7 linked regions of the Homo sapiens genome follow. The protein of the gene in region 1 interacts with the protein of each later gene in a pairwise test. Each region holds a gene or a part of one and is shown in the gene's direction. Other genes may lie near its edges.

Evidence for each region.
Region 2: the proteins of DGAT2L6 (region 1) and TMED8 interact in binary tests that used the Homo sapiens proteins (3 or more experiments, as listed by UniProt).
Region 3: the proteins of DGAT2L6 (region 1) and ACSF2 interact in binary tests that used the Homo sapiens proteins (3 or more experiments, as listed by UniProt).
Region 4: the proteins of DGAT2L6 (region 1) and CIAO2A interact in binary tests that used the Homo sapiens proteins (3 or more experiments, as listed by UniProt).
Region 5: the proteins of DGAT2L6 (region 1) and RNF144A interact in binary tests that used the Homo sapiens proteins (3 or more experiments, as listed by UniProt).
Region 6: the proteins of DGAT2L6 (region 1) and HSD17B11 interact in binary tests that used the Homo sapiens proteins (3 or more experiments, as listed by UniProt).
Region 7: the proteins of DGAT2L6 (region 1) and SLC10A1 interact in binary tests that used the Homo sapiens proteins (3 or more experiments, as listed by UniProt).

The regions. Positions count from the first base shown.
Region 1 is NC_000023.11:70,183,637-70,187,920, forward strand, and holds part of DGAT2L6 (diacylglycerol O-acyltransferase 2-like protein 6), read left to right. Parts: intron 1-4,284. UniProt on the Homo sapiens protein: Diglyceride acyltransferase that uses fatty acyl-CoA as substrate. Particularly active with oleate as a substrate. Has no wax synthase activity to produce wax esters.
Region 2 is NC_000014.9:77,342,225-77,346,508, reverse strand, and holds part of TMED8 (protein TMED8), read left to right. Parts: intron 1-28; exon of another isoform or gene 29-30; coding exon 31-160; intron 161-2,670; coding exon of another isoform or gene 2,671-2,685; coding exon 2,686-2,812; intron 2,813-3,025; coding exon 3,026-3,331; intron 3,332-4,284.
Region 3 is NC_000017.11:50,467,243-50,471,526, forward strand, and holds part of ACSF2 (medium-chain acyl-CoA ligase ACSF2, mitochondrial isoform 2 precursor), read left to right. Parts: intron 1-797; coding exon of another isoform or gene 798-1,571; exon of another isoform or gene 1,572-1,638; intron 1,639-3,785; coding exon 3,786-3,893; intron 3,894-4,284. Other genes in the region: CHAD (chondroadherin precursor), read right to left, coding at 798-1,571. UniProt on the Homo sapiens protein: Acyl-CoA synthases catalyze the initial reaction in fatty acid metabolism, by forming a thioester with CoA. Has some preference toward medium-chain substrates. Plays a role in adipocyte differentiation.
Region 4 is NC_000015.10:64,074,218-64,077,388, reverse strand, and holds part of CIAO2A (cytosolic iron-sulfur assembly component 2A), read left to right. Parts: intron 1-1,851; coding exon 1,852-1,897; exon of another isoform or gene 1,898-3,171. UniProt on the Homo sapiens protein: Component of the cytosolic iron-sulfur protein assembly (CIA) complex, a multiprotein complex that mediates the incorporation of iron-sulfur cluster into extramitochondrial Fe/S proteins.
Region 5 is NC_000002.12:6,919,958-6,924,241, forward strand, and holds part of RNF144A (E3 ubiquitin-protein ligase RNF144A), read left to right. Parts: intron 1-4,284. UniProt on the Homo sapiens protein: E3 ubiquitin-protein ligase which accepts ubiquitin from E2 ubiquitin-conjugating enzymes UBE2L3 and UBE2L6 in the form of a thioester and then directly transfers the ubiquitin to targeted substrates.
Region 6 is NC_000004.12:87,335,644-87,339,601, reverse strand, and holds the end of HSD17B11 (estradiol 17-beta-dehydrogenase 11 precursor), read left to right. Parts: intron 1-2,235; coding exon 2,236-2,326; 3' UTR 2,327-3,087; downstream 3,088-3,958. UniProt on the Homo sapiens protein: Can convert androstan-3-alpha,17-beta-diol (3-alpha-diol) to androsterone in vitro, suggesting that it may participate in androgen metabolism during steroidogenesis.
Region 7 is NC_000014.9:69,786,802-69,791,085, reverse strand, and holds part of SLC10A1 (hepatic sodium/bile acid cotransporter), read left to right. Parts: intron 1-4,284. UniProt on the Homo sapiens protein: As a major transporter of conjugated bile salts from plasma into the hepatocyte, it plays a key role in the enterohepatic circulation of bile salts necessary for the solubilization and absorption of dietary fat and fat-soluble vitamins.

The DNA.
Region 1 (4,284 bases):
AGCAGAAATCTTTAAATTCACTCTTATTCTTTTTTCTCTCCCTTGGACATCCTTTTTGGGTGTGTGGGCCTGCCCTCTTTCTCTGGTTTCTGGTACTGTAAAAAATAGAACAGGTTGGGTGCAGTGGCTCATGCCTGTAATCCAAATATTTTTGGAGGCCGAGGTGGGAGGATCGCTCGAGCCTGGGAGTTTGAGACCAGCTTGGGCAACACAGTGAGACTCCATCTCTACAGAAAAAAAAAAAAATCAAAAAATTAGCCAGGCATGGTGGTGCATGCCTGTGGTCCTAGCTATTGTGCAGGCTGAAATGGGGGGCTCCTTTGAGCCTAAGAGGTAAAGGTTAGAGTGAGTTGTGATCACGCTATTGCACTCTAGCCTGGGTGACAGAGTGAGATCCTGTCTCAAAATAAATAAATAAAAATAGAACATAGTCTTCAGACCAGTTCTGTCACTTACTTGCTATGAGACCTTATGCAAGTGAGTCTCTGTTATTTTCTATGTGACCTTGAGCAAGTAAGTCATTCACCCTGTACCATAACAGAAACAGCATAGTACCTGCCTCTCAAGACTGTTCCAGAGATCTTTGAGGTGAGAAAATCCTCAATACATGTTAATTTTCTTCCTTTTAACTACCGAAATTGACTACTTGGAGCCCAACCACCACACCTGATAAGATACTACCAACCTTGTCAATCTTGCCACTTGATCAAGAGAGGAGTGACAACCACTCCTCTGAGGCAGACACCTTAGACACTGACTTTATTACATCTTCAGGAAGAATAATGATAACTAAAGCAGATACAGGCTTTTTCTTTTTCTTATTTTCTTTCTTTTTTTTTGGAGACAGAGTCTTGCTCTGTCTCCCAGGCTGAGGCTGGAGTGCAGTGGTATGATCATAACTCACTGCAGCCTCGAACTCCTGGGTTCAAGCGATCCTCTTGCCTCAGCTTCCCGAGTATCTGGGACTACAAGTGTGCACCACCATGCTTGGTTAATTTTTAAATTTTTTTGTAGAGACGAGGTCTCACTATGTTGCCTGGGTTGGTCTCGAACTCCTGGACTCCAGGGATCCTCCTGCCCTGGCCTCCCAAAATGCTGGCATTACAGGAGTGAGCCACCATGCCTGGCCTAGACTTTGATGCATTCCCAGCATTCCCACATACCCCATCACGGCATCTTTCATTAATCCCCTTCCATCACCCCAGCATCAACTCAGCTGCGTTGGGCTGAAAAATTCTACCTCCTTGGTGACTTTCAAATTGGTATGTGAAATAGTAGCCTATTTCAGGTTCCCATTGGCTTTCATCTGAATGCCAAAACTCTTAGCTGATCTCTTTGCCTATAGTTTCTCTTGCTCTCACAGTTATTCCAGATTATCTTCCTGAAACAGACACGATCATGCTACTCTTCTGCTCTCTGCTTACTAACCTTTACTGGCTATTCATTTCCTTCAGCATCAGGCCTAATCTCTCCAGTTTCCTTCCCAGCTTCATCTCCTGTACCACGGCTTCCTTAGGCTGCCTGTGTTTTTGCAGGTAATGATGTTACTCCCAGGCCTTGGACTCTCCCATCTCCTGGACTTTGTTCAGGCTCTTCTTTGTGCATGGAGGACCCTTCCTCTACCAATCCATCTGACAAAAATCCTACCTTTCCTCCAAAATTCAACTTTGAACCTTATCTTTCACAAGAAACCCAGAGCTTCTCCAAGACAGGAATTTTGTTTTCCACACGTATTAATGTGAGTTAATACACATGAGGTACTTAAAATAGTTATTGGCACATAATGAATGCTATCTACTTTTTTTCCTACAGCTTGGAGTAAAGATACATGATCTCTCTGATTCTTAGTTTCTTCATCTGTAAAACGAGATAATAAAATTATCCACCTATGAGGACTGCAAGAACATTAAATGAGATAATATACATTAAGTGCTGAACAGAGTGCTGTTTCACAACAAATGGTCAATACATGGTATCAAGGACCATGCTTGCATTATTTTCATCATTTCCATATTTACTCCTTTCACCCTCCCCTTTCCAGTTCCCAACCCTGTCCCCATGGCTTTTAACATAGAGATTTCATATGAGGTAGGCTCATCAATGTTTACTGAATTATTAAATTACCTGTCACTCCTACAAGTTCTTATATTTATAGTTTATTTGGATCCAACAAGTAATCACAAAGCCACAGAAATTCCTCTTTGACAAACTACTTTTGTTTTTTTTTTGTTTTGTTTTTTTGTTTTTTTTTTTTAAATTTCTGAAGGCATTGAGCCAACTGACTAGATTAGGCAAGCATTGCCAACATTCAGATTTAGGTCATTGCCCCGAAACATGAAACATAATGTTTTCACCCATAAGAATTATAGGTTTTCACCTTACACTGGAAATAACTCGTTGCCTATATCCTTACACACACATGCACACCTTATAACTTCAGATAGCCTTTCCTTGTTTGGAATACGGTTTCTCTTCCTATTAACTTTCACCTGCAACTTGGAGAATTGTGAAATTGAACTTCTTCCTTTACTATAATTCAATGTAATGAACATTTATCATAAGCTATCTCTCTGTGTTTGGCACTGTGCTAAAGGCCAAACTTACTGTCTGATAGGGAGAGAGACAGACATATGAGGTACTAATTACACCATCAAACAAAATGAACCAGAACCAGAAAGAAGCACGAGTAATGTCTTGGGAGTGTGCAGAAGAGGGAGTCCTCAATTCTGACCGGGAGATGAGCAAAGATATCACAAGGAAGTGTCATTTGAGCTAAACCATAAAGCCTGAGAGAATTTTGATAAGCAGAAAGTTGGAAAGAGAGTAATAAAAATAAGGGAACAGTATCATCAAAGGCACAGAAATGTGAATTACATGGTGAGTTGAGGGAATGGGAAGTAGACAAAGGTGGTCGGGCCCGTTTCCCATACTTTAGCCATTTGTGTCCCATCTTCTGGCTCTTTCCACAGCTGTGTACCACCTATGCTATTATTACTTAACATACTTTTCCTTCAAATTAAGTCATCTCTGTAGCCTAAATTAATGTATTTTAACAGGAAATTTTATATCGCTACCATGAATTTGCTTTTATTCTCTATGCATTAAAATAACTTTTTATCCATACACCACCTTGGATCATCTAATGTCCCTACAGGGCATGGGAACACTAGGCTACGAAACACTTTGAGAAATACTAGGCTGCAGCATAAGGAATGTGAGTACGGCTACTGAGAGATGAGGCTAGGAAGACACGTGGGGCTAGGCCAGTGAGGGCCTTGAATACCAAGCCAATGTGTTCAGACTTTATTCTGTCAGCAGTTGGAAAATATTGATGGTTTTGGAGGAAGCAAACAACATTATGTGATTGTGCTTTTTAAAAATTTCTGGCAGAGGTGTGGGAAATGGATTGGAGGGGAAGAAACCCATAGCTGAAGGGCAGACAAAAGGCTGCAGTCCAGACTAGAAAAAAATCAAGTCCTGGACCATAGCAGTAGCAATGGGGACAGAGGCAGGAAGACGGATAGGAGAAGTTTTTTGTTTGTTTGTTTGTTTGTTTGTTTGTTTGTTTGGAAAGGGAAAGAAGTCAAAGATGGCCTAAAAATATTGAACCTATGACATTTATCTTGAGGCCTGAAAGATGAATAGGAACTAGCCAGACACAGAGCTGAAGAGAGAGTTTTCCAGGCAAAGGGGACCGCAGGCAGAGAAGCCCTGAAGCTAGAGAGCACTTGAAGGAGCTGAAAAAAATAGCATGGTGGAATGCAAAGAACAAGGTGGTGGCCAGAGACTAGATCACCAAGATCTCCTAACCCTTCTAAGCCAGGGTTAGGAGACTGGACTTGATCCTAAGGGCCACAGGAAACCATATTTATTGTTGAATTGTTAAATTACCATATACTCCCACAGGTTCTTATATTTATAGTTAACTTAGATACAGTAAGTAATCATAAAGCCACAGATATGCCTCTTTGATAAACCAGCCATGTCCTTGGCTACATGCTATAGATTGATAGAGACAGACTTGCATTTAATGCACTGGCTGCATCATGGCTCAAATGGAAGCAGGCAGCCTATTTAGAAGACACTGGTAGTCATCCAGGTGAGAGATAATGGTGGCTTTGACCAAGTGGTAGCATGGAGGTGGGAAATAGAATAATTTGAAAGATATCTGGAAGGCAGAACTGGCAAGAATTGGTAAATGACTAAAGGGAAGTAACAGCTAGAGCTTAGTGGTTAAGGGTACAGTCTCTGGGGTAAGACAATCTTGGTTTTCAGCCCTGGCCA
Region 2 (4,284 bases), on another chromosome or scaffold:
TTGAATTAACATGCTCTCTTCCTCTGAGAGGCCACAGATGGTATCTCCAGTGAGTAAGGATGCCACGGAAGATCTGCGGAAAGCAACTGGTCCTTTGGAGGCTCAGGCCTTGGTGAAACAGGATTTGCTGCCTGCAGACCAGGCCCAGGTCCTCAATGAGGTAGGGGGCAGATTCTGGCTCTTTCTTATGAAAGGAGGCACCAGAATGTGGACACATAGTGGTTGGGTTGGAATTAGAAAGCACTGCGAGGGTGGCTCCCGGAATTCTCTCTTTGCCCTCTAATTTAGGGCATCTTGGTCTTCATTATTTTTTGGAGAATGATTATTTGTATCTTCCACAGGGCCCATCATTGTACTGGCACCCAGTAGGCACCGATTCAGAAAACGAAGTGTTAGAGTGAATGTTCATGTGTTCTCTAAAATCCTCTTCATTGAGGAGCCTGAAGTCATTGGACTATTTTGCTCTTACTTTTCTTGTGGTAGATCTATTTAGTATTTATGATAAAGATTCCACAGAAGCTTTTTTTTTTTTTTTTTTTTGAGACAGGGTCTCCCTCTGTCGCCCAGGCTGGAGTGCAGTGGCACGATCTTGGCTCACTGCAACCTCCACCTCCTGGGTTCAAGTGATTGTCCCACCTCGCCTCCCGAGTAGCTGGGATTACAGGCACATGCCACCACACCCGGCTAATTTTTGTATTTTTAGTAGAGGCAGGGCTTCACCATATTGGTCAGGCTAATCTCGAACTCCTGACCTCAGGTGATCCACCCGCCTTGACCTCCCAAAGTGCTATGATTACAGATGTGAGCCACTGTGCCTGGCCTTGATTTTTTTTTTTTTTTTTTTTTTTTGAGACAAAGGTCTCACTCTGTCACCCGGCTTCAGTGCGATGGTGCAGTCATGGCTCACTGCAGCCTCAAAATCCTGGGCTCGAGTGATCCTCCTGCCTCAGCCTTCCAAGTAGCTGTATGGAAGTGATGGTGTAGTGGTGCCCCTGCCATGGAGGGATGGGGGCGGGATGGGGTTGTTTCTATCATTTATTAGCATATGTGTTAGAATAATGGTTGGTATTAGTGTCAATGAAGACACCACCAGGCGTTATAATTAGATTTGTATAATACTTTACAGTTTACAAGCATTTGTATCTGTAACACTTCATTTACTCCTGAGAACAACCTTGTCAGATAGGTGCCATTGTGTCTCCATTTAAGAAATGAGGAAACTGGCTGGGCCCGGTGGCTCATGCCTGTAATCCCAGCACTTTGGGAGGCCGAGGCAGGCAGATCACTTGAGGTCAGGGGTTCGAGACCAGCCTGACCAACATGGAAAAACCCCATCTCTACTAAAAATACAAAATTAGCTGGGCGTGTTGGCAGGTGTCTGTAATCCCAGCTACTCGGGAGGCTGAGGCAGGAGAATTGCTTGAACCTGGGAGGTGGAGGTTGCAGTGAGCTGAGATCGTGCCATTGCACTCCAGCCTGGGCAACAAGAGCAAAACTCTGTCTCAAAAGGAATGAAAGAAAGAAATGAGGAAACTGAGGCTGAGGGCTGTTAGAGACTTTACTAAGGCTATGTAGCTAATATGTTGCAACCTAATCCTTTATTTAGCATTTTAGAAAAGGAAGGATTTATTTAAGCACGCTAGCCAAAGTCTGATTCATTTCAGTTAGCAAAGGAGATGAGAACTGGAGGGCTTATTCTCCAGAAACAGATATTATGAGAATACAGCCTGGGAGGATTACAAACTTGATTTATTTATTTCTCACAAATACAATTCCAGCCTCTTAACTGGATTGCTGACTCACTGATGTGCTCTCCCCTGTGGGCAATAGGTATAGTTTTCTTGTTGAGTTGCCTGCCAACTGTTTGGAGAAGGGGCAGAAATTAAGGTATAATAGCATGAAACCAGGAACACTAATCTGAGTGATTTGAAGGGAAACTCACCAGGGAGACATTGTAAGCTCCCGCATGGGTTAGTGAGGGCTTTGAGTATCAAATGCCATTTGCATTCTTCCATGTAAGTCAGACGTCTGGCAGCAAATGTACTGTTTAAATGCAAGTCCTGGGGCTGGTCTAAGGTGAAATTGTAACTATTGATAGAACACTGTTAGTGACTTCAAGACTGAGACAATCTGTAGCCCGAGGTGGGCTGTGGATGAGAGAGAAAGACTATAAACCAGATTCTGTCTCTGCAGTGCTTTGGAGAGCTGATTGACAGTAATGTAGAAGTAACCCTTGAGTGGGAATTGTAGCAGGAGGATGTGTGGCAGAGTGGGAGTCAAACTAAACCCTAGGAGCAAGAGCTATTAATGAGAGGAGCCACAGGGAGGTACTGTGCAGGTGAGGTAAGACCAAGGCATGGCCCAGAATCACAGTCAATGCAAATACTGTTAACAACCTGCGAGGGTGTTGGCGGACAAGGACCTTATAAAGGGTTTGGAGCAGGAAAGTTGCAAAAGGTAGGAAACAGTCTTTAAACAATGGAATATTTTGATGGCTTTAAAAAATTAGTAGAATTTATTAGCAACTTCTATTTGGAAGAAAGAGAAGGAACATTGACTAGTACATTAAGCTTTGAGTGGGGATAGTGGAGATAATAGAGCAGGGGTGGGGCAGCCTTCATGCAAAAAGAGATTAATTAGAATCTGCCACTCGAATACTCCTTTAACCAGAGTTCTGTTGTGCAGATGGCTAAGTATCAAGTTCCACAGAGGTCTGGGGACATCGTTATGATCCAGTCTGAACATACAGGAGCTATAGATGTTCTTTCAGCTGATTTGGAATCTGCAGATCTTCTGGGGGACCACAGGAAAGGTGAGACCTTTGGGAGTAAAGGAGGTGGTTTGTTTCCAGTAGATACTCAAAGAAAGGCAGGCAGACAGACAAATGGAAGGAAAGAAAATGACTTGTGAAAGGAAGTCAAGCCAGTAGAAAGAATGTCTGACTGTGCCAGCCTCTCTTAGCAAAATGCCCGGGGTACTCATGTTTCCTCATGGTTTCTCAGTGCTAAGCTGCTTGTCCTTTCAGTCTCCCCACCTCTGATGGCTCCTCCATGCATCTGGACCTTTGCCAAGGTGAAGGAATTCAAAAGCAAGCTGGGCAAAGAGAAGAACAGCCGTCTGGTGGTGAAGCGTGGTGAGGTGGTGACCATCCGGGTACCTACTCATCCAGAGGGGAAGCGTGTCTGCTGGGAGTTTGCGACCGATGACTATGACATTGGCTTTGGAGTTTATTTTGACTGGACCCCTGTAACTAGCACTGACATAACTGTGCAGGTCAGTGATTCCAGTGACGATGAGGATGAAGAAGAGGAAGAGGAGGAAGAGATTGAAGGTAAATTTAATTTTAACCTAATTTGCAGTTTTCTGGCTTAATCTGATTTCTGGTGACCATTTTGTGGGTTGTACCAGTCCTCCTCTTCCTTTGAATGCAGTTGAGAAACTCAGCATTACAAGCTAAGCTGAGTGGTACAGGCCAAAGAGAACATTCTGGTGGGGTTGATACTGCTGCCTTAATTGAAAGAAAGCCTCTTTTTCCTTATCGGTACCTCATTGTTTTCCCAACACCTTCCTGGGGGCAGGGATGGGGCAGGAGCAGAGAGAGGGTGAGTCATGCGGCAGTTTAGAGGGATGGTCATTCAGGTCGCATGTAAGCCAGAGATTATTTTACATCTCTCTCTTAGTTTGTAGATATTTATTCTTGGCCTGGAACCAAAGTGAGTGATTACAGTTTGCTAAAGGTATCCATTCTCTCCTTATCCCAAACTCTCATAGCTGGCTATTGGTTACTTCTTTACTTCATGCCCAGACAAGTTTTAAAAGGGTCTCCGGGCTCCATTCCGGCTGTTATTTGTAGTGTCTACACACTACACAAAGGATGGCCCAGAGGCATTTTTCAGATAACGTAAGAGTAGGTCCTAAGCATTAGTCTTATTCCTCTTATTCCTTGATTTTCTTATATAATCTTAAAGTCAGTCCTTTAACGTGCTTCTTCATAGAACAGCAAGCGGGCAGGGAAACCTACAGGTATCTGGGAAAGCGGAGAACCTTGTATCTTATTTGCTGCTTTTCAGGAATCCTAGGGTCACTTTATAGCACGTTTATCTGCAATTCCTATCTTCGTTAGCTAGTCCTTTCACCTACTAAATGATAGAATATCGGGATCTTTTCTTCTAAATATCTCTTTCTCCCTCTCAGAAATGTCCAGACACTTCTGAAGCTAGGAAGGCTCCTCTCAGGCTAAATCATTTTCTCAGTGGAGACATTATTGGCATTTGGGATGGGACA
Region 3 (4,284 bases), on another chromosome or scaffold:
AGGAGGGCAAAGGGCAGTTAGCAGTCTGGAGACAGTGAGTCACGCCAGTCTTCTCTGTGGAGAGACACCTGGGGTCTTGGGCCAAGGATTGACAATAGTGGTCTTGCCTTTGCCCCTTCACGGAGCCCATGGGCACGATGCTTGCATCCTGGGGGAGCCCTTGGTCCCACGCCTACTGAGCTGCAATGGACTTGAGAATGCAGTGAATTGTGTCTGTGTGGATTGGGCAGGGCCATCCACCAGGGCCTCTATGGGGCATGGAGAATGTCTTCCTCAGGCATTTGCTTCCCCTCACTCCCCAGTCCCCCACTCCCCCTTAGCACACATGCACAGCCCCCACCAGGAACAGGGTCTCTTTGTGGGCCTGATCTGCCCAGCTCCTCTGGAAGGCTCCTCAATAAACAAACCTTCCTTTATGGGGTGGTAGGTTTACTGGAGACGGGAAAAACAGCAGAGGAGGGGTGGAAGGCCCAACAGGAAGAGGTGGCTGCTGCTCACAGTTGGGGGTTTGGAAGCACTGGAGATGGCCCTAGGGGGCCTTTTGTGGGGCCAGGGCAGTCCCACTCCTTTTATATGTAAGAATCCTAGGAGGGCAGTGGTCGAGACTGGCAGCAGACAGGGATTAGGGTAGGGATGTGACAAGGCGAGGAAGGGAGGTGGCAGAGCTGCTCACCTTGGAGATAGCCAGAGGGACAGGGAACCTGGGGACGGGGGATGGTGCCAGCTGTGGCCCTGGCTCCTGGGGCCTCCAGGAAGGGAAGAAGGAACCAGGGCAGAGCCCACAGCCAGGAGCTCACCTTCTCCAGGTTGGTGTTGTCCAGCCAGAGGGTCTCCAGGTATCTGCCAAAGGACTGGAAGGCATTGTCCGGGATGCTTTTCAGGGGGTTGTGGGACAGCTTCAGCTCCTCCACCACCCGTAGCTTGCTCAGGGCAGCTGAGGGGTAGCTGGACAGCTGGTTCCTGTCCACGTGGAATTTGGCGAGGTTCTCCACGTCGTCCAGGGCCCCGGGCTGCAGGGAGCTCAACGCGTTTTCCGACAGGTAGAGCCAGCGCAGGTCCTTGGCTCCCTGGAAGGCGCCTGCGCGCAGCTCACGGATCTTGTTGTTGTTGAGCTGCAAGATGAAGAGGTTGACCAGCGGGGAGAGCAACCCCCGGGGCAGCTCAGTGACCTTGTTGTGGTCCAGGTAGAGGTAGGTCAGCTCGGTCAGGTCGTCGAAGGCACCTGCGCGCAGCACGCGGATGTCGTTATGGGACAGGTACAAGTAGATAAGTTGCTTGAGGCCGCGGAAGGCACCGGCGGCCACCTCGCGGATCTGGCAGTGCTGCAGGTGCAATGACACGAGGTTCGGCATGGCCCGGAACGAATTGGCAGCCAGCACCGGGAAGTTGTTGCGCTGTAGGTTGAGCAGCTTGGTCTTCTCTGACACCTTGGGGATCTTCTGCAGCCCCACCTTGTCGCAGATGACGTGCTGCAGGTCGCTGTGGCAGTGGCAGTTCTGGGGGCAGGCGGCCAGCGCCGGCAGCAGACCAGCCAGGAGGCCGAGGCTGAGCAAGAGCATTGGGCGGACCATGGCTGGGACGCCTGGGGCCGGGGCTGGGGGCAGCAGCGGCGGCGGGGCGCGGGCAGCGGCGAGTCCTAGGCGCTCGGGTCTGCCGCCCTCTTTATACGGTGGCCCTGACCGCAGCCGGCAGCCGAGCCAGCTCCTACGTGGAGCATCGAGGCCACTGGGCTTAACTCGCTCGCGCCCAGAGATGCGCCCCCGCCCTCCACGGGGAAGGGGGCGGGGCCGTTCCCCCAGCCGGCTACCGTGCATGAGGGGGTGGGACCGTGGCCCCCGAGCCCCGAGCCCTGAGCCCCGGCTGTAGCCCCCCGCTCTCCTATGGTGCTCCTCTGCCTACCGCCTTTCCCGGGGCTTTTCTGGGAAGGGGGAATAGTTATGTCTGGAGCCCCGAGTTTACATCGGAGAGAGGGAGGCGTTCCCTCAACTTATTTGTTTGCTCAGGTTTGAGCCTCCACGCCGCGCCATCCACACACGCTCGGCCGGGTGCCCTGGATGCGAGGCGGGAGGAAGCGGGGCCGGACAGCTGGATGCGTCTCCCTGCGGTGGGCCAGCTGCCTGCGCTTTAAAGGGGCGCTTGTGCGGCGCCTGCCGAGCGTGAGAGCCGCCCCGGCGTCGGTCTCCCACTTCAGACTCGACGCGCCGAAGCTGGCCCTGGGTAGACCCGAGCTCCTTCCCCACCCTCGGGCGCGCCCCCACCCCTCTCTTCCAACCCCGCTTGCGTTTCTGTCGCCGGCGCCCTCATCCCCTTTTTCCACCGCTGAAGGCTAAGCAGAGAAGTGGGAAGTGGGGGAGAGTGGCCCACAGGAATGGCAAACACACCTGGAAACCACAGGCCACAAGCACAGTCGCACCATCCCCCCTCCTTCATCGCCCCGAAATATCTCCATCCCTCATCCCCAACCCTAGTGGTCAGGACCCGCCCCTGAGGGGTCTCAGGGTGGCGGCTGAGTGGCGCCGAGGTGTACTTGGCAGATGCCACATTCGGGCGGTGGCCCCAGGACTGTGAGGAGGGGTGCGGGAGGGGGTGGGGCAGGTCGAGGGACCAGCCCTGGACGGCTCTGGCTGCCAGACCCTAAGTTCTGTGGGCAGTCCCGCCCCAGCCCGCCAGATTTCTGTGTGCCCACTTGCCAGCCACGATGTCCGGATTCCTGTGGAAAGGGGAGGGTGAGCAGGCAGGGTCACAGCTCTGGCCTCAGGGTGAGCTCCAAGCTGCCTGGCACAGGATATTGTCTGTGATGAGGGGTGGAAGGAGAAACCAGAACCCACATTGAACCAAACCCCAGCCGTGCCAGAGCCAGAGCAGCTGATATGGGGGAAGCTTGGTGCAGGGAGGAGGATGGATGAGATCTGGTATCCGTTGATTAAAGGGGACCTAGGATACGGGGTAACTAGCCTCTCTTCCCTTACCCAGTACCCTCGTGTTGGGGCCTGGTTTCCAGGGCCTGCCCTTTTCCCAAACCTCTCTGCCCCTTGCCTCTAGGATAGGAGGGTCATACTTGGCCTAGACCATTCCTTGATGGTATTTAGGCTTCTCCAAGGCTGGCTTCTGGTTTTTCTGTTGCTCAGGCTTTCCAACCACTGGAAATGGGGGAGGTGGGGTGGGGGTACCACTGGTTTTTAAAATCACTGCTTAGGTTGTTTTTTTATTTTGATGGAAATAAATTCACGGGAAACTCTCCAGAGCTTGGGGGACGCCTGCCCCAAGGCCAGGCACTTGTTCAGGGTTTGCAGAATGCGGGGGTGGGGTTGTGTCTGTGCCACTCCTAGCTGGGCCAAGGCAGGCTGGCTTTCTCATCAAGTTTATGGGGCCTTCAGCTTGGAAGGGAGGAGCCGGGGATGTGGCCTGAAATCAGGAAGGTGGGGTTAAGGCAGCCAGGGGATGGGGGGAGAAGTGTGGGGTGTTGGTAATACCGGAGCCACAGGCACAGACAGGTGGCTGCTCCAGGGAAACGGGGCACTGAGAGAGCTCCAGCTGGAAGAGAATGGTGTCCCTGCTCTCAATTTTCTTTCAGATCTGGGGCCCTGCAGAGATCTAGTCTGCTCACTCCCAGCACCTCTGCCTCCTGACCCCAGGCCCCTACCAATGATGTCTCTGTTTCCACCATTCGGCTGCCCTCCACTTTCCCTTTTCTTTTATGAATTCCTTCCCATTTCCTCAGATAGCTCACCTGATCCCTCTGCACGTGCTGAGCCCTCTTCAAACACCCTTTCTGGACCCTCTAGGTTGCTTATGGAACCACAGAGAACAGTCCCGTGACATTCGCGCACTTCCCTGAGGACACTGTGGAGCAGAAGGCAGAAAGCGTGGGCAGAATTATGCCTCACACGGAGGTGAGCCCCTGACCAAGACTCCAAAGTCCCACCTCCCGTCACCCAGCTGGGGTGCACCCAGCTGGGACATCGGTTGCTTTCAGTGAGAGAGTCAAATGGCTCACTCAGGATGCCTAGAGCCCCCCAGCAGCAGGGGTGTGCTAGGCCTGGCCCGGAGTGTTCTCTGTGGGCTAAGCATGAAAGGGGAAGAGCTGGAACAGTGGCTGTGAGCGGCTGCCAGCTGAACTTCTCCGCGGCCTCCCTTCCTGTCTGAGGTGTGTTTTTGCCAAGCCCACTGTCTGTTTCAGGGCAGCCAGGGTAGCCTCAAAGAGGAGCCAGAGCACAGAGAGTTTTCCTACACAGCTTCTTTTCCTCCAGTGGTGCTCGCCTCTCGCTTTAGCAGAGTTCTTCT
Region 4 (3,171 bases), on another chromosome or scaffold:
AGTGATTCTATACCTGTTGCTTTGAGGTCTAGAATAAGAGTGTTTTGCTACTAGGAGAAAGGTGTTTTGTTTTGTTTTGTTTTGTTTTGTTGAGACGGAGTCTCGCTCTGTCACCCAGGCTGGAGTGCAGTGGCGCAGTCTCAGCTCACTGTAACCTCCACCTCCCGGGTTCAAGGGATTCTCCTGCCTCAGCCTCCTGAGTAGCTGGTAATACACGCCCGGCTAATTTTTTGTATTTTTAGTAGAGTTGGGGTTTTACTGTGTTAGCCAGGATGGTCTCGATCTCCTGACCTCGTGATCCGCCTGCCTCGGCCTCCCAAATTGCTGGGATTACAGGCATGAGCCACCACGCCCGGCTTGTTTTGTTTTTTAAAAAAAATTGGGGCCAGGTGCAGTGGCTCACGCCTATAATCTCTGTACTTTGGGAGGCCTAGATGGGCGGATCACTTAACCTCAGGAATTCAAGACCAGCTTGGGCAATATGGCGATACGCGGTCTCTACAAAAAAATAGAGACGAGGGAGGAGAGGGGTGGGAGTGTGGGAGCTGAGGTGGGAGGATCACCTGAGCCCAGGAAGTCGAGGCTGTAGTGAGACATGATCGCGCCACTGCACTCCAGCCTAGGCGACAGAGTAAGACCTGTCTCAAAAAAAAAAAAAAAAAAAAGATTGGACTAGATGACCTTTAAGGTCCCTTTTAACTATAATAAGTTATGATTTTTCTCACTCATGAGAAATGTTTATCTCCGTAGTAAATAAGTAAATAAAAATTAGTTCATATGTTCCAGTGTTCTCTGGAAAGTAGACGTCTTTATTACAGCATACTCTCTTTACCACAGGATTTGCAATAATTTTGTAGGTTGTCTTAAAAGCTCTGGGTCTTGGAGGGTAGCTCATGTCTATAGGTGCAGCAGGGCCAGGAGGGATAGCTTAACCAGTATTATACTTGAGAATAAATTTAGCATGATAATAATGAATGAGAAAAGAAGGATGCTGAAAACTATATTGTGATCCCATTTTTGTAAAACAAGCAATGTGAAGAAACTTCCAACCCTGATATGTGGGTGTGTGTGTGTGTAAAATCTGTGTAAGATTATGTGGGTAAAGAGAAGAATATGGAAGAAACCACACTAGATTGTTATTGTAGATTTCCTGAGTCAGTAGCAGGGCAGGAGGAAGTTTAGATACCGAGTTGGGAAGAAGTAGAGTGCAGAAAAGAGATATTCTTAAGTAAAACCACACATATGAGATCTCATTTGTGTAAAATGATATTTTTGTGTATTCATAAAAAAATTAATGGAAATACCACCTGCAGGCCTTTTCCAGGTGAACAAAATAAAAAATCCTACTCATTTCAGTCCTTTTTTTTTTTAGAGAAGGATGTGGGGGATTTGTCCCTATGTCTCTGATGTTAGAAACAGGATTTGGGGGGCGCTGGGCGCAGTGGCTCACGCCTGTAATCCCAACACTTTGGGAAGCCGAGGCGGATCACCTGAGGTCAGGAGTTTGAGACCAGTCTGGCCAACATGGCGAAACCCCATCTCTACTAAAAAAAAAAAATAATAATACAAAACTTAGCTGGGTGTGGTGGCGTCTGCCTGTAATTCCAGCTATTGGGAGGCTGAGGTAGGAGAATTGCTTGAACCCAGGAGGCGGAGGTTGCAGTGAGCCGAGATCATGCCACTGCACTCCAGCCTGGGCAACAGGGTGAGACTCCATCTCAAAAAAAAAAAAAAAGAAACAGGATTTGGGCACTCATCCCTAGATGTTTGAATTTACTGTACATTCCACTTCACTCTCTTATCTTAGAATGCATTAATGTTTTTTCTTTTACTTTTTTTCCCACTTTCCAGTTGGAAATCTACATTTCTGAAGGAACCCACTCAACAGAAGAAGACAGTAAGTGAATGTTGAAACATAATTGAAAAACAACTTCAGATAGTATTTTATCTTGGATACTGGATTCTTCTGCCAGCCAAGAATCTACTGGGTTACTTTCAAAAAAGTGCACAATTGGTTATTGGCTCTTCCTTCCTAGGTGAGGAAACCTAGGCATTTCAAAGAAGTAATTTTTGCAGTGGACTCCGAGTGCACTAGAGCCCACGGATGTTGACTGGTTTAGGCCAGTGGCTACACATCTGTAAAGAATATCCAGTGCTGGGGACCTTGACTTATGAGCTCTAAGTAGGCTTCTTTTCTTTGGTGACAGGATAGAGAGCTGTGTACTTGAAATTGAAGGTCTAGCAAGTAGAGCTTTAGTGAATCTTGGGGTAGGTGCTGTCTCTCTGGGTTAGTATATTAGAATGGGAGTGGGGAACCTTTTTTATATAGAGGACCTCTGGCCTACAGAGAGAAATCAATCAGTAGCTACTTAAAAATAGCAGAAGTGGGGTTTGGGAAAAGCAAAAAACAAAATGTTCTGTATGATCCCTGTGTTACATTAAAAACATAATTTTAATGTTTTTAATCTACAAATGATAGAGTGCAAATAATGAGAAATACATTTAAAAGGCATGTTGTACTTAAGTTTCATCACTAAGTAAATTGAGAAGGTGGGAAAAAATAGCAGAGGAATGGAAGAAAGAGCTAATAGAGGAAGAGCAACAGTGAGATAGATACCAAGAAGACTCAGAAAGGCATACACAGGGCTGGAGAGAGACACACAAAATCTCCTACATAAAAGAGAGCTATAGAGAGGGAAGCCTGCTGCTTCCAGAGGAACAGCCTATCCAGGAAACTTTTTAGGTACTGTCATGAAAACTGTTAAAAACCATGCCCTATTTATAGTTCTAGACATGTAGATTATTATACTCTTTGTGGGCTGAATTTCTTTAAACCCCACGAGCTGAGGGCTTCTACCTGTAATTTAGAAAAATAAGAGTTTAGGTACCCTAAATCCACTCAGGTTATCGTTTTGAAATTCCTTGAATGATAGGATTTTACAGCAGCAATAGTATTAAGTCTTATGAGTCTTGTTTTTCATTTAGTAAGTATTTATTAAGTGCCTTCTATGTGTGGGTACAGTTCAGCCTTTGAGATACATTCCTGCCTTTGTGGAGCCTACATTGTAGTAGGAAGAAACCAAATTGAAAGTATTTTCGCAGGAATATGTGTATGTTTGTGTGTCTTCTACATGAGACATTTCAGCGGCAGCCCAGAAAACTCAATCCACA
Region 5 (4,284 bases), on another chromosome or scaffold:
GCTTGCTAGTTGGTAATCCCTGTATCCAGACTGTTGCTAGAGTAAGTCACGTCTCCTGGGGATTCAGTGTGGTTTGGGACTTTGAAGGGACCTCACACTGTTTGGCTGAAGCTGCTGAGGTTCAGGGGTAGAAGTGCCACTCTGGCAGGCGGCGGCAGGGTTGGGAGCTACAAGCTACGTTGCCTGCCTCTGAGAACATTCTTTCCCCTGTGGTCCACCACGTGGCCCCACTGCCTACTTTTGTTCACATTTCTCCCTCCTGGAAGCCTTTCCCTCTGGGGGTAGAGATGGGAAGGAAGCCTGCCCTTGGAGACTGACAATCACAGAACCAGGTGGGCCAGCACCCACCTGGCCTATGAACCCTTGTTGTAACCATGGGAACCTCGTAGCTTGGAAAGGAGGGGTCAGGTAGCCCAGGCCACATGAAAAGCTGTGGCTGGTCCAGCCCTGGCATCAGCTTTTCTGGTTCTGTCTGCTGTCCCTTTTTTCCCATACCTCACTTGCAATAGAAGAGGATGAAGCCGTGCTCGCTGCCCTGCACGTTGGGTGGTCTGGAACCATTCAGGATGATATTGAGCCCTCAGACTCTCTTAGAGCAAGGAACCCCTGGCTTCACAGGATGTGGGATCTCAGAGGCAGCCCAGAGGCGGGGAATGGAATGGAGTGCTTCTAAGGAAGAGGGACTCTCCGTGTTTTCTCTGGGGAATTTTCTAACATTGAGATCGAAGAATGAAGTTGGAGGTGCCTTTCTTTTCTTTAAGAAGTAATCATTTCCAAGACTAGCCTCCTTTCTCCGTTGTTTCTGCATTACTGAAACACATGAATACCCTTTCTTAGTTAGATGAAGAAATTAAATTGAAGCCACTGCTCACATACCTGCTGGGTAGTGGGGCTGAAGGATAGAGCTTATTACAATTTCCTGACCCAGCTGTCTGGCCCTGGGCCAGCGTCTTAACCTCCCTGGATGGCTCCAGTTTTTTGAGGATAAAACTGAGGTGTTGGTGTAAATATTTTCCAAGATCCAGAAATAAAAATGTACTGTTGGATCATATTTTTTTTCCAGGAGAATAAATATTACAGGACGACTCACCAAGTACAACCATTCGTAAGGGTTTGTTTGTTTCCCAAGAGAAAATATTTTAACTTTCAGAAGAGTGGATTTTTTCCAAAGTGAAATGGTGAGAAATGAAGCTTTGAGGAGGGTGGCTCATTGCTGATAGGAGCCTTCACCTTGCTTCACTCCACAAATAACCCAAGACCTGAATTTAAAGGTGCTTACTTCCTGGATGTTCCGTAGAACTGGAAGGCAGGCTTTCTCTAAGGAGCAGGCTTATAAGCTGGATGCAGTGTTCCAGACAAAAGCAAGCTCCTTGGTGGCATGCAGTGTGTCAACCAGTATTTTATCATCTCAGGTGTGTTTGGCACTAGAGGTGGAGGAGGTGGTTGATACTCATTATGGATTTGCCTGATCTTCAGGGCTTTGCTTGCATCGTGGATGCAGTTCTCACACAGCCCTGCAGCACAGGCGTATGTTGCTATCCCTAGCTGACAGAGGAGCAGAGTGAAGCAGAGAGCAGGGATGTTGTCCAACATCGCACACACGTCGTCAATTTTGAAGCCTGGCTTTGAACCCAGAGGCCTGCAGATAAGGATAGATCCCATGACCTTGAGGAGGCTGTAGTCTAGGGAGCGGGAAGCTCAAACATTAACAGATTGAACCGTGGGGTCAGGGCAGCATGGGAGGTCAGGGCAGAGAGCAGTGGGACCCACAGGAGGGTGCCTGGATCAGCCCCGGGTGGCAGGGAGGCTGCCTGCTGGGGCGATGCTGTTGGTCTGGGATGGGAGGGACGGGTCAGAGTTAGCTAGGCAAATTAAGAGGGACAAGGTCACATTCTGGGCCTGGGAACAGCAAGAAACAGCCTGGGGTGGACAGGGAACTTAGGACCAGCACACAGGGCCGAGCTCCCCAGCTGCCTTACCATTGGCCTTTTTAGGGTGGCTGGTGGTCTCTGAGCTGTTTGGACCCAGATTTCCGTGTGTAATACAGCCGCTTTCATTACTGGCATCTCCTGGAAGGTCCCATCAGTGCATTTTCCTTTTCACTGTTTTGTTTTGGAGCGTCTTTCCCTATCTGTGTTCCCTCCATTTCCTTTCCTCCTCCTCCAGTTCTACCTGGTGGGAGAGTGAGTTCAGGGAAAGATCAGGGGAACCACCCATAGCGACCATTGTTTTTACAGTCAGTCACCTTGCTCCCATGTCTTCCGAGTGACCCATAGTTGACTGGGGCCAGCGAACTAGACATTAGCCCCGTGCATGTGCTGGATATGGCCGTGCAGGCTCTGGGGGCTTCTGCCTATGGGAGCCTGTGGGAGCAAAAGGGAAGGGTTCCAAGTCCTGAAAGTGGATGTTGTCAGAGTCTCTTTATTGATTGAACGGGCTTTTGTGTCTGTCCAAGGACTGTGCACATCTCTTACAACATTGTGTTCCTGGGAATACTTTTTAGGTTTCCCAAGAACTGCTTTCAGGTAATTCTGTGGAGCAGGGCATGTTTATTGTTGATGCATGGTGTGTTAAGGTCCTCTGGAGGGCAGAGGAGTGCAGAATGCAGCAAGCTTGACTGCCTCCTGCGAGCCATGCAGAGGGGACCCGCCCGGTTTTTCTTGTTTTTCTTTTTTTTTTTTTTTTGAGATGGAGTCTCACTTTGTCGCCCAGGCTGGAGTGTAGTGGTGCAATCTCAGCTCACTGCAAGCTCCGCCTCCTGGGTTCACGCCATTCTCCTGCCTCAGCCTCCCGAGTAGCTGGGACTACAGGCGCCCGCCGCCACACCCTGATAATTGTTTGTATTTTTAGTAGAGACGGGGTTTCACTGTGTTAGCCAGGATGGTGTTGATCTCCTGATCTCATGATCCGCCCGCCTCGGCCTCCCAAGGTGCTGGGATTACAGGCGTGAGCCACCGCGCCCGGCCTCCTGCTTTTTCATAGTGTGTCTCAGACTCCAGGGTGTGTCACCTGGCTGGTGATCTGGTGGGTTGCAGGAGTCCCCTCTGTGCACCCTCCGTCGCTGACTGGTCTGCAGCCTCCTCTGCAAGTTTCCAGCATTCTAGAGTGAACTCTCTGATGTCTGCACCACCTGCTCGACCCCTGCTACAGCCTCTTCAGTGAGGTCTGCCCATATCCTCTGAATGAAAGGGGGCCTGCCAGGGAGGCAGCAGCGCTTCCTCATGTCCCCATTTGGGTGGTAGGAAGTGTTCCCTCCACAGAAATACTCAGATGTCTGCATGAAGGGACTCTCTCCTCAAGTTCAAACATTCACTGAAACGGAAATGCGCTGAAGCTGGAATCAATGCACACCTTTTTTTTTGTTAACTTTCTTGGGAAGCTTGTGTGTTAAGCCTGTCGGTGTCTGTTAACACTTCTCTATTCAGAGACCTCCAGCCACGCTCGTTGCCCAAGTTACCTGTGAGCCCGCGGGTTGAGTGTTCAAGCCTCTTCCTGCCTTGGCTCCAGCCTGTCTTTCCAGGGCTGATCTCAGCAGCTGCTGACGTGTGCCCTGGGACGCTCTCCCACCATCCATGTGCCAGCTTCCTAATGATTCTTGAAGGCTCATCACAAATGCTGCCTTTCCTTCCAGCTGTAAAATTGCCAATGTGGGTGACTGTGGAGATGCTCTCCTCTGACACTGGCATTGCACAGATGAGAAGATGGAGCCGCACGGAGCAGAACTGGGACGGAGTTAAAGCTCCAGGGTCCAGGCCAGGTCCTGCAGGCCCAGGTGCCTGCGTTCTCTCTCGTCTTCCCAGGCACAAATGTTTTCCCCACCAGGTGCTTCCATAGCAACTTTATTTTTTTTTTTCAGAACCTGTAGTTGCGTTTAAAACTCTCTAATCCAATTTTACTGATTTATGTAACCATCCTATTTCCTCTGCTAAATTATAATCTCTGCACAGGTAGGAACTTACTCATTTTTACATTCTCTCAGTGCCTATCATGCTCTTTCTGAATGGATTTTTGTTAAGTGATTGAATACAAGATAGAGAAACCTGGTTCAAGAGGGAAGCCTGGAACAGATTATGAATGAAGAAATGGAATTCGAGTGTAAATTCTGTATTCCATCATGATCCGAGTAAACCAGGTTCTCTCTTTAGGTCAGGTCACAGAACAATACACCTTAAGACCCTGAGAAGTCAGATGGGAATATTTGCTTGGGTTTAAGAGTGAGGATGGTAGAATGTAGCCTGGTGGCCTGGAATGCAGAGAGAGAATCCTGGGTACCGTGGTTGTGTA
Region 6 (3,958 bases), on another chromosome or scaffold:
TGCCTTAGGACAGCTGGGAGAAAAAGCCTCTTGCTGCCTGTCCTAGACTGGGCTTCTCCAAGTCAGTGGGATATCAGGATCACTTGGGAAGTCTATTTAAAAATAGATCCCTTGATCTCACTTCTAAAGATTTTAACATGGATGTTTGAGTTGGACCGGAAATCTGTATTTTAATAGGCAACTGCCACAGACAGTGGTCCAGAGATTATATTTTGAGAATTACTGATGCGAAGAGCAAAAAACTCAAGAAATGAAAAGCATGACATATGTTAGGCTTTCTTGCCCCTTCTGCTAAAAACTATGATGAACATGCCTTGGAGGTTTAGATAGTAAAGCTCAGGGATCTCTTTGGTGAGTAGACGAGTTAAAGCCTGTGATGTTTCTGGCATTGTACTTGTCATGTTACGTAAGTATGCACTCAGTGATCGCAGCCCCTTAGAATATAAACCTATAGAAGAAGGAATTTTGCCTAGTTTTCATCACTGTATGCTCTGCATTTTGAAGAGTGACTGACACATTAGAGGCACCAAAATGTTTGTTGATTGAATAAATTAATTCTAGTTTCTAGACCTTTAAACATAAAGACTCAAAGTTTGTGCTCTGGAGTTGAATGAAGCTGTGTTTGTGTGACTTGCTTGCAACATGAACATGGATTAGTTTTTTAACTTATCTGAAGTTCAGTTTCTTTATCTGTAACATGGAGAAAACAATTGGACTTTATAGGGCTGAGACGAATAAAGAAAATAATGCTCTTAAAGTACTCAGGGCTGGGCACGGTGGCTCACGCCTGTAATCCCAGCACTTTGAGAGGCTGAGGCAGGAGGATTGCTTGAGGTCAAGAGTTCAAGACAAGCCTGGGCAACATAATAAGACCTTGTCTCTACTAGAAATCAAAAACATTAGCCAGGCGTGTTGGAACACACCTGTAGTACCAGCTACTCAGGAGGCTGAAGTGGGAGAATTGCTTGAGCTCAGAAAGTTGAGGCTGCAGTGAGCCATGATCATGCCACTGCACTCCATCTTGAGCAACAGAGCAAGACCCTACCTCAAAAATAAATAAATAAAATAAAAAGTACTCAGTACATTGTAAGTACTCAATAAATGTTATATGCCACTGTTATTATAACTACTACTATTATTATTATCATTGCCCTAATTCTTGTTATGAGGTCACATTGGTGTCATATTTCCAAACCCTCTTTTCATGCCATCTAGGCAGATTTCTGTATATTATTATGTTGATTTACATATTCTGTTTTGTTTTCTCCCAGACCCACTGGAATGTGACAACTCCCTAAATATTCTAAGTGTAGTGTCTGGAGAAAAGAGATGAGACCTGCTAGTGTCCGTCACTGTTCAAGACATTTTTTGGGGGGGTGCTGTGGGGGACGGAGTCTCGCTCTGTCGCCCAGGCTGGAGCGCAATGGCATGATCTGGGCTCACTGCAACCTCCACCTCCCAGGTTCAAGCAATTCTTCTGCCTTAGCCTCCTGAATAGCTGGGACTATAGGCACCCGCCACCATGCCTGGCTAATTTTTTGTATTTTTAGTAGAGACAGGGTTTCACCGTGTTAGCCAGGATGATCTCGGTCTCCTGACCTCGTGATCCACCCGCCTCTGCCTCCCAAAGTGCTGGGATTACAGGCGTGAGCCACCACGCCAGGCCAAGACATTTTATTTAATATAGTAACACATTGATTCCACAAAAGAACACTGAGGGATAGATGTTAATTTTTCCATTTACACGTGAGGAATTTAAACTGAAAGGTGAAATAATTGGTTCAGCATTATGCTCAAAACCAAAGCGTTGTCTGCATTTTTATTTAGCAGTTCTACTTCCGCAGTCTCTTAGTGGAACATTTTAATAATATTCTGCATTATAAAGTACAAAATTAGTTCCTATTCTCATTTCCTTTTTAATGTCGGGTTTCTTTTTGTAAAGTCTTTAGTATCTCAACTCTTCAGTTCTTACACCTCCTCCCTCAGATCTTTTGTTTCAAAAACTGACTACTTCAGGTTATTCTACTGTAAAGAAGGCTAAGCCTTCTTTTCCATTTGAAAAGGAAATAGATTTAATGGGAAAGAATATATAGTAGTGACTCAGATTTAAGATGCTTAATCTTATTTAACATGAACATGACTATACATGATAACTTAAAAGTATTTCTAAAGAGGGTATTCTACAAATGCACTTAATATTAATTTTCTAATTATTTGCATATATCTTTCTTTTAGGATCCTTCCTGAGCGTTTCCTGGCAGTTTTAAAACGAAAAATCAGTGTTAAGTTTGATGCAGTTATTGGATATAAAATGAAAGCGCAATAAGCACCTAGTTTTCTGAAAACTGATTTACCAGGTTTAGGTTGATGTCATCTAATAGTGCCAGAATTTTAATGTTTGAACTTCTGTTTTTTCTAATTATCCCCATTTCTTCAATATCATTTTTGAGGCTTTGGCAGTCTTCATTTACTACCACTTGTTCTTTAGCCAAAAGCTGATTACATATGATATAAACAGAGAAATACCTTTAGAGGTGACTTTAAGGAAAATGAAGAAAAAGAACCAAAATGACTTTATTAAAATAATTTCCAAGATTATTTGTGGCTCACCTGAAGGCTTTGCAAAATTTGTACCATAACCGTTTATTTAACATATATTTTTATTTTTGATTGCACTTAAATTTTGTATAATTTGTGTTTCTTTTTCTGTTCTACATAAAATCAGAAACTTCAAGCTCTCTAAATAAAATGAAGGACTATATCTAGTGGTATTTCACAATGAATATCATGAACTCTCAATGGGTAGGTTTCATCCTACCCATTGCCACTCTGTTTCCTGAGAGATACCTCACATTCCAATGCCAAACATTTCTGCACAGGGAAGCTAGAGGTGGATACACGTGTTGCAAGTATAAAAGCATCACTGGGATTTAAGGAGAATTGAGAGAATGTACCCACAAATGGCAGCAATAATAAATGGATCACACTTAAACTTTTGGTGTTTCCATCTTTTTGTCTTAAACAGAACATGACAACCTTCAAATTAAAGGAAAATAAATTGTGCAATCTTTTTTTAAAAACTGGAAATTTCTTGGATGTGAGGCTCATTGAGATGGGACTATAAGATCAGATCTATAAATTTAAAAATTTAGTAGGTTTGTTAGGTTTCTTCTACGAAAGAAAAATATTTTCAAGACTATATCAAACACGGCTGGTCACAGTGGCTCACGCCTGCAATCCCAGCACTTTGAGAGGTCGAGGTGGGTGGATCACAAGGTCAGGAGTTTGAGACCAGCCTGGCCAACATGGTGAAACTCCATCTCTACTAAAAATACAAAAATTAGCTGGGCGTAGGCCAGGCGCAGTGGCTCATGCCTATAGTCCCAGCACTTTGAGAGGCCAAGGCGGGCGGATGATTTGTATGCATATTAAAATTTGAGAAGCACTTCTTTGGAGCAGTAGCATCCTGGCCAACATGGTGAAACCCCATTTCTACTAAAAATCCACAAACATTAGCTGGGTGTGGTGGCGGGTGCCTGTAGTCCCAGCTACTTGAGAGGCTGAGGCAGGAGAATCACTTGAACCCAGGAGGTTGAGGTTGCAGCGAGCCGAAATGGTGCCACTGCACTCCAGCCCGGAGACAGAGGGAGACTCCGTCTCAAAAAAAAAAAAAAAAAAAAAAATTAGCTGGGTGTGGTGGTGGGCACTTGTAATCTCAGCTACTCAGGAGGTTGGGCCAGGAGAATCATTTGAACCCCGGAGGCGGAGGTTGTAGTGAGCCAAGATTGTGCCACTGCACTCCAGTTTGGGCAATAGAGCAAGACTCCATCTCAAAAATAAATAAATAAAAATAAAAAAGGCTATGTCAAACACATACACATGGAGAACTTTAATCCTTTTATCAGACAGTTCATATTCAGAAAACACATAAGGCAGAATCCTTTAACATCCTGTTAAA
Region 7 (4,284 bases), on another chromosome or scaffold:
TGTAATTTCTTTCATAAAGATCTTACATGTCCTTTAGATGTATAAGTATTTTCTAGTTTTGTGAATATCATAAATGGTGTCTTTTAAAATATATATATATTTGTTTCTAGTATATCAGACCCAATTGATTGACTGACTGATGCTAATGTATTTAGAACCTCATACATTTTCTTACTTACCAGTTATAATGGAAAATTACTTAGATTTCTTCTGTGGACAATCCTATCATTGGCAAAACAAGAAAGTTTCATTTCTTCTTTTCCCATCCCTATACTTTTTCTATTTCTTGTTTTGCTGTGCTTACTAGGGCCTATATATAGTATAATTTATAAAACAGGTAATAATAATGACTATCTTTGCTTTATTCCTCTTGTTAAAGAAAATCCCTCTATTTACCATTAAGTTTAACGTTTAATATACTTTTTCTAATAGATTTCCTTTCAAGTTAAGGAATTTTCATTCCGTTGCTAGTGTACTAAATTTTTATTATGTAAGAACATTAAATTTTGTTGACTTTTCTATAGCTACAAAATTGTACCATTTCTTTAATAATATAGTAATATGTATTAATAGATTATCTAATGTTAAATCATTCTTACTCATCTTGTTCATTGTATTTTTTAAAACACTTATTTGCTAATATTTTATTATTTTTGTTTCTATGTTCATAAATAAGAGTGGTCCCCAATTTTCTTTTCTCGTAATATCATTCTCCAGCTTTCGTTCCAAGATCATATTAACTTTATACAATAAATTAGGGCATGTTTCCCCTTTTTATATTATCTGGACAGATTTGCATAATATTGCAACAATCTGCACTTTGCATGTTTAGTAGAACACTACCGTAAGACAGTATAAATCATGTAGGGTTCTAGAAGATAGGTTTTGAACTGCTTATTAAATGTCTTAAATGATTCTAAGTTGAATCAGGTTTTCGGCTTCATATTGACTTGGTTTTGTAGGTTATATTTCCCATGAAATTGTCCATTTAAGTTAAAAATGAAAGTATGAAAATGTCCTTAATGACTTTTTAAAATCTTCATTTTCTCTGTAGTTATGTTCCCTTTTTCACACTAACCTCATCAATTTGTGCCATCTCTCTTTTCCCTGGTCTGCCTTGCCAGAGGTGCCTATTTAATTGGCCTTTAAAAAAAAAAAGAAAAAAAAAAAACCCTATTTTTGGTTTTACTGATTCTAACAATTTACAAAACTTAAAAAATTTCTTCCTTTTCTTTTTATTGGGTTTTTCTCATTCTAACCTCTTAAGGTGCTTAACTCATTAATTTTTAATCTTCTTTTTCAATATAAATATGTTAGGCTATAAATTGCCCTTTAATAATTGCTTTATTTGCTCCCTGCATGGTTTTTAATTACTATTTATTGAGATATAATTCACATACCATAAAATCCATTCTTTAAATTGTACGATGCCTTGGTTTTTAGCATAATTCCAAGCCTGTGAACCTATCACCATTATCTAATTTCAGAACATTTTCAATACCCCAAAAAGGAACTCCATCCCATTTAGCAGGAGTCCCCATTTCTCTCTCCTGCTCCAACCCTTGACAACCACTAATCTTTCTGTCTCTATGGATTTCACATAAATGGAAGCATTCAATATGTGACCTTTTGTATCTATACTTCTTTCACTTAGCATATTTTCAAGGTTCATTCATGTGATAGCATGTCACAATACTTCATTTGTTTTTGTAATTGAATAATATCCCATTGTATGGATATAATACATTTTGCTCATCCATTCATTCAGCTGATGGACACATGGGTTGTTTCTACTTGTTCCCTAGTATGAATAATGTCTATGGAAGCTCACAGGCAAGTTTTTGTGTGAACATGCTTTCTGTTCCCTTGGGATATATACCTAAGAGTAGAATTGCTGGGTTATATGGTGACTCTGTGTTTAAATTTTCTAGAAACTGCCAAACTATTTTCCAAAGCACCATTTTACTTCCCACCACCAGTGTATGAGGATTCCTAATTTTCCATATACCCTCCAACACTTGTTATTGTCCAGCTTTTTAATTATAGCCATGCTAGTAGATATAAAGTGGTATCTCAAAGTGGTTTTGATTTGCATTTTCCTAATAAGTAATGATGTTGAGCATCTTTTCATGTGCTCATTAGCCATTTGTATATCTTCTTTGGGAAAATATCTCATTCAAATCCTTGGCCCATTTTTTACTTGTTTTTTATTATTGCATTATAAGAGTTCTTCATATATTGGCCGGGCGCGGTGGCTCACGCCTGTAATCCCAGCACTTTGGGAGGCCCAGGCGGGTGGATCACGAGGTCAGGAGATCGAGACTATCCTGGCTAACACGGTGAAACCCCATCTCTACTAAAAATACAAAAAAAATTAGCCGGGCGTGGTGGCAGGCGCCTGTAGTCCCAGCTACTCGGGAGGCTGAGACAGAAGAATAGCGTGAACCCAGGAGGCGGAGCTTGCAGTGAGCCGAGACTGCGCCACTGCACTCCAGCCTGGGCGACAGAGCAAGACTCCATCTCAAAAAAAAAAAAAAAGAGTTCTTCATATATATTCTGAATATTAGACCCTTATCAGATATATGACTTGCAAATATTTCCTCCCATTCTCTTGTTGGCTTTTCACTTTCTTGATGGTGTCCTTTGAATCACAAGTTTTTAATATTAATGAAGTCTGACTTGCCTTTTTCTTTGGCTGTTCGTGCTTTAGATGTCTAAGAAACCATTGCCTAATCCAAAGTCCCCTCTCCATGTTTTTTAAATATGTATTTTATTATTTTTATATTCTAAATACTGTTTCCACCATGATTTCATATTTGATGATATAATTAGAAAGTTCCCCTCCCCTCATCCCATGATCCTTTTATTGGTTGCTCAGTTTCAATGCTCCTCCCATCCCAGGTCTAATACCTCAATTCTGGTCCCTTCCTTGGGCATTAAAGCCTCCACAGTGCCAAGACTAACACCCCACTCCCCTCCAGAACCCCTCTATGAAGCTTCAGCTTGAGTTCCCCCACTACTTTGCATTTGTTTCTTGTCCGTGGGCACCTTTTTTTTTAGTGGAGTGGCGCTAACATAGCTCACTGTAACCTCAACCTTCTGGGCTCAAGCCATCCTCCTGCCTCAGCCTCCCAAGTAGCTGGGACTCCTGGTGCACACCACCACACCTGGCTAATTTTTGTGTGTGGTTTTTGGTTTGTTTGTTCATTTGTTTGTGTGTAGAGACAGGGGTCTTACTTTGTTGCCCAGGCTGGTCTCAAACTCCTGGCTTCAAGCAATCCTCCCTCCTCGGCCTCCCTAAATGCTGGAATTATAGGCATGAGCCACTATGCCACACTTAAATTGAGTGTTAATTTCTTACAAGCTCAAGTGTGTATTTAAGTGTTCACGGGGGTGGGGGAGTTCCTATTACCTAGTTCACAATTTTCTTTGAGGGACTCTTCTCACCTCTAACAGCTCTTATCCTTATGACATGCCTACCTATTGTTCTTGATGGCTACGCTCTGGAACCTTTGATATAGGCTGCTCTTCATGCATATTTAAGCCATATTCCATCTTTATAGAAATAATGAAAGAAGTGTAGATGGAGGGTAGGGCTGTGGGGAGGAGGAGGGACACACTGAGTGTGGTTTTCCTAAGATCTTGCCAAGCCCTCACCTCCCAACCATCTTCCCACTGGAATAAAAGTCAGAGCCATATATTGTTAATGTAAATGTCCATAAATCTAAGGAGATGCCCTATCAGCTTCCTTCTCAGTTGACCTTTCTGGAGGGCCTCTCCCTAGACAGGGTCCTGGGACTAACATATATAAGATTCCAAATGGAAAAGGAAATTGGACAAGTAGGATACATATTAGAGCTGGAAGGACATATTATTCAGGCTCTGAGTGTCATAATTTATTTTAAATAATATCAAGAGGAACCAGAAAGTAAAGAACATGAGAACACCAGAGTTGGGGACTGGAATACTATCCAAGATGCAAAGCAAATCTGACCAGGTTATCTTGTCACTTACTCAACATGGGTATCTATTACTGCCTTCTCTACTACCCCACCATTATGGCCCTTCAATTATTCTGTTTCTTACTGCTTCACTATTTCTTTTACAGTCCTTTTAATCATGGTATCTGTTTATTGATTTTTCTAGTAGGGTTTTTGACTTCTGCCTGAGCATCACTCCCATGCCACCCATCCCCAAAGACCAAGTGTCCTGTCACTGTGTCTCACACTCAGACTCCCCACGAGGTAAAATGTGCTGATATAGCTAATTGTTATTGTCTCCGTT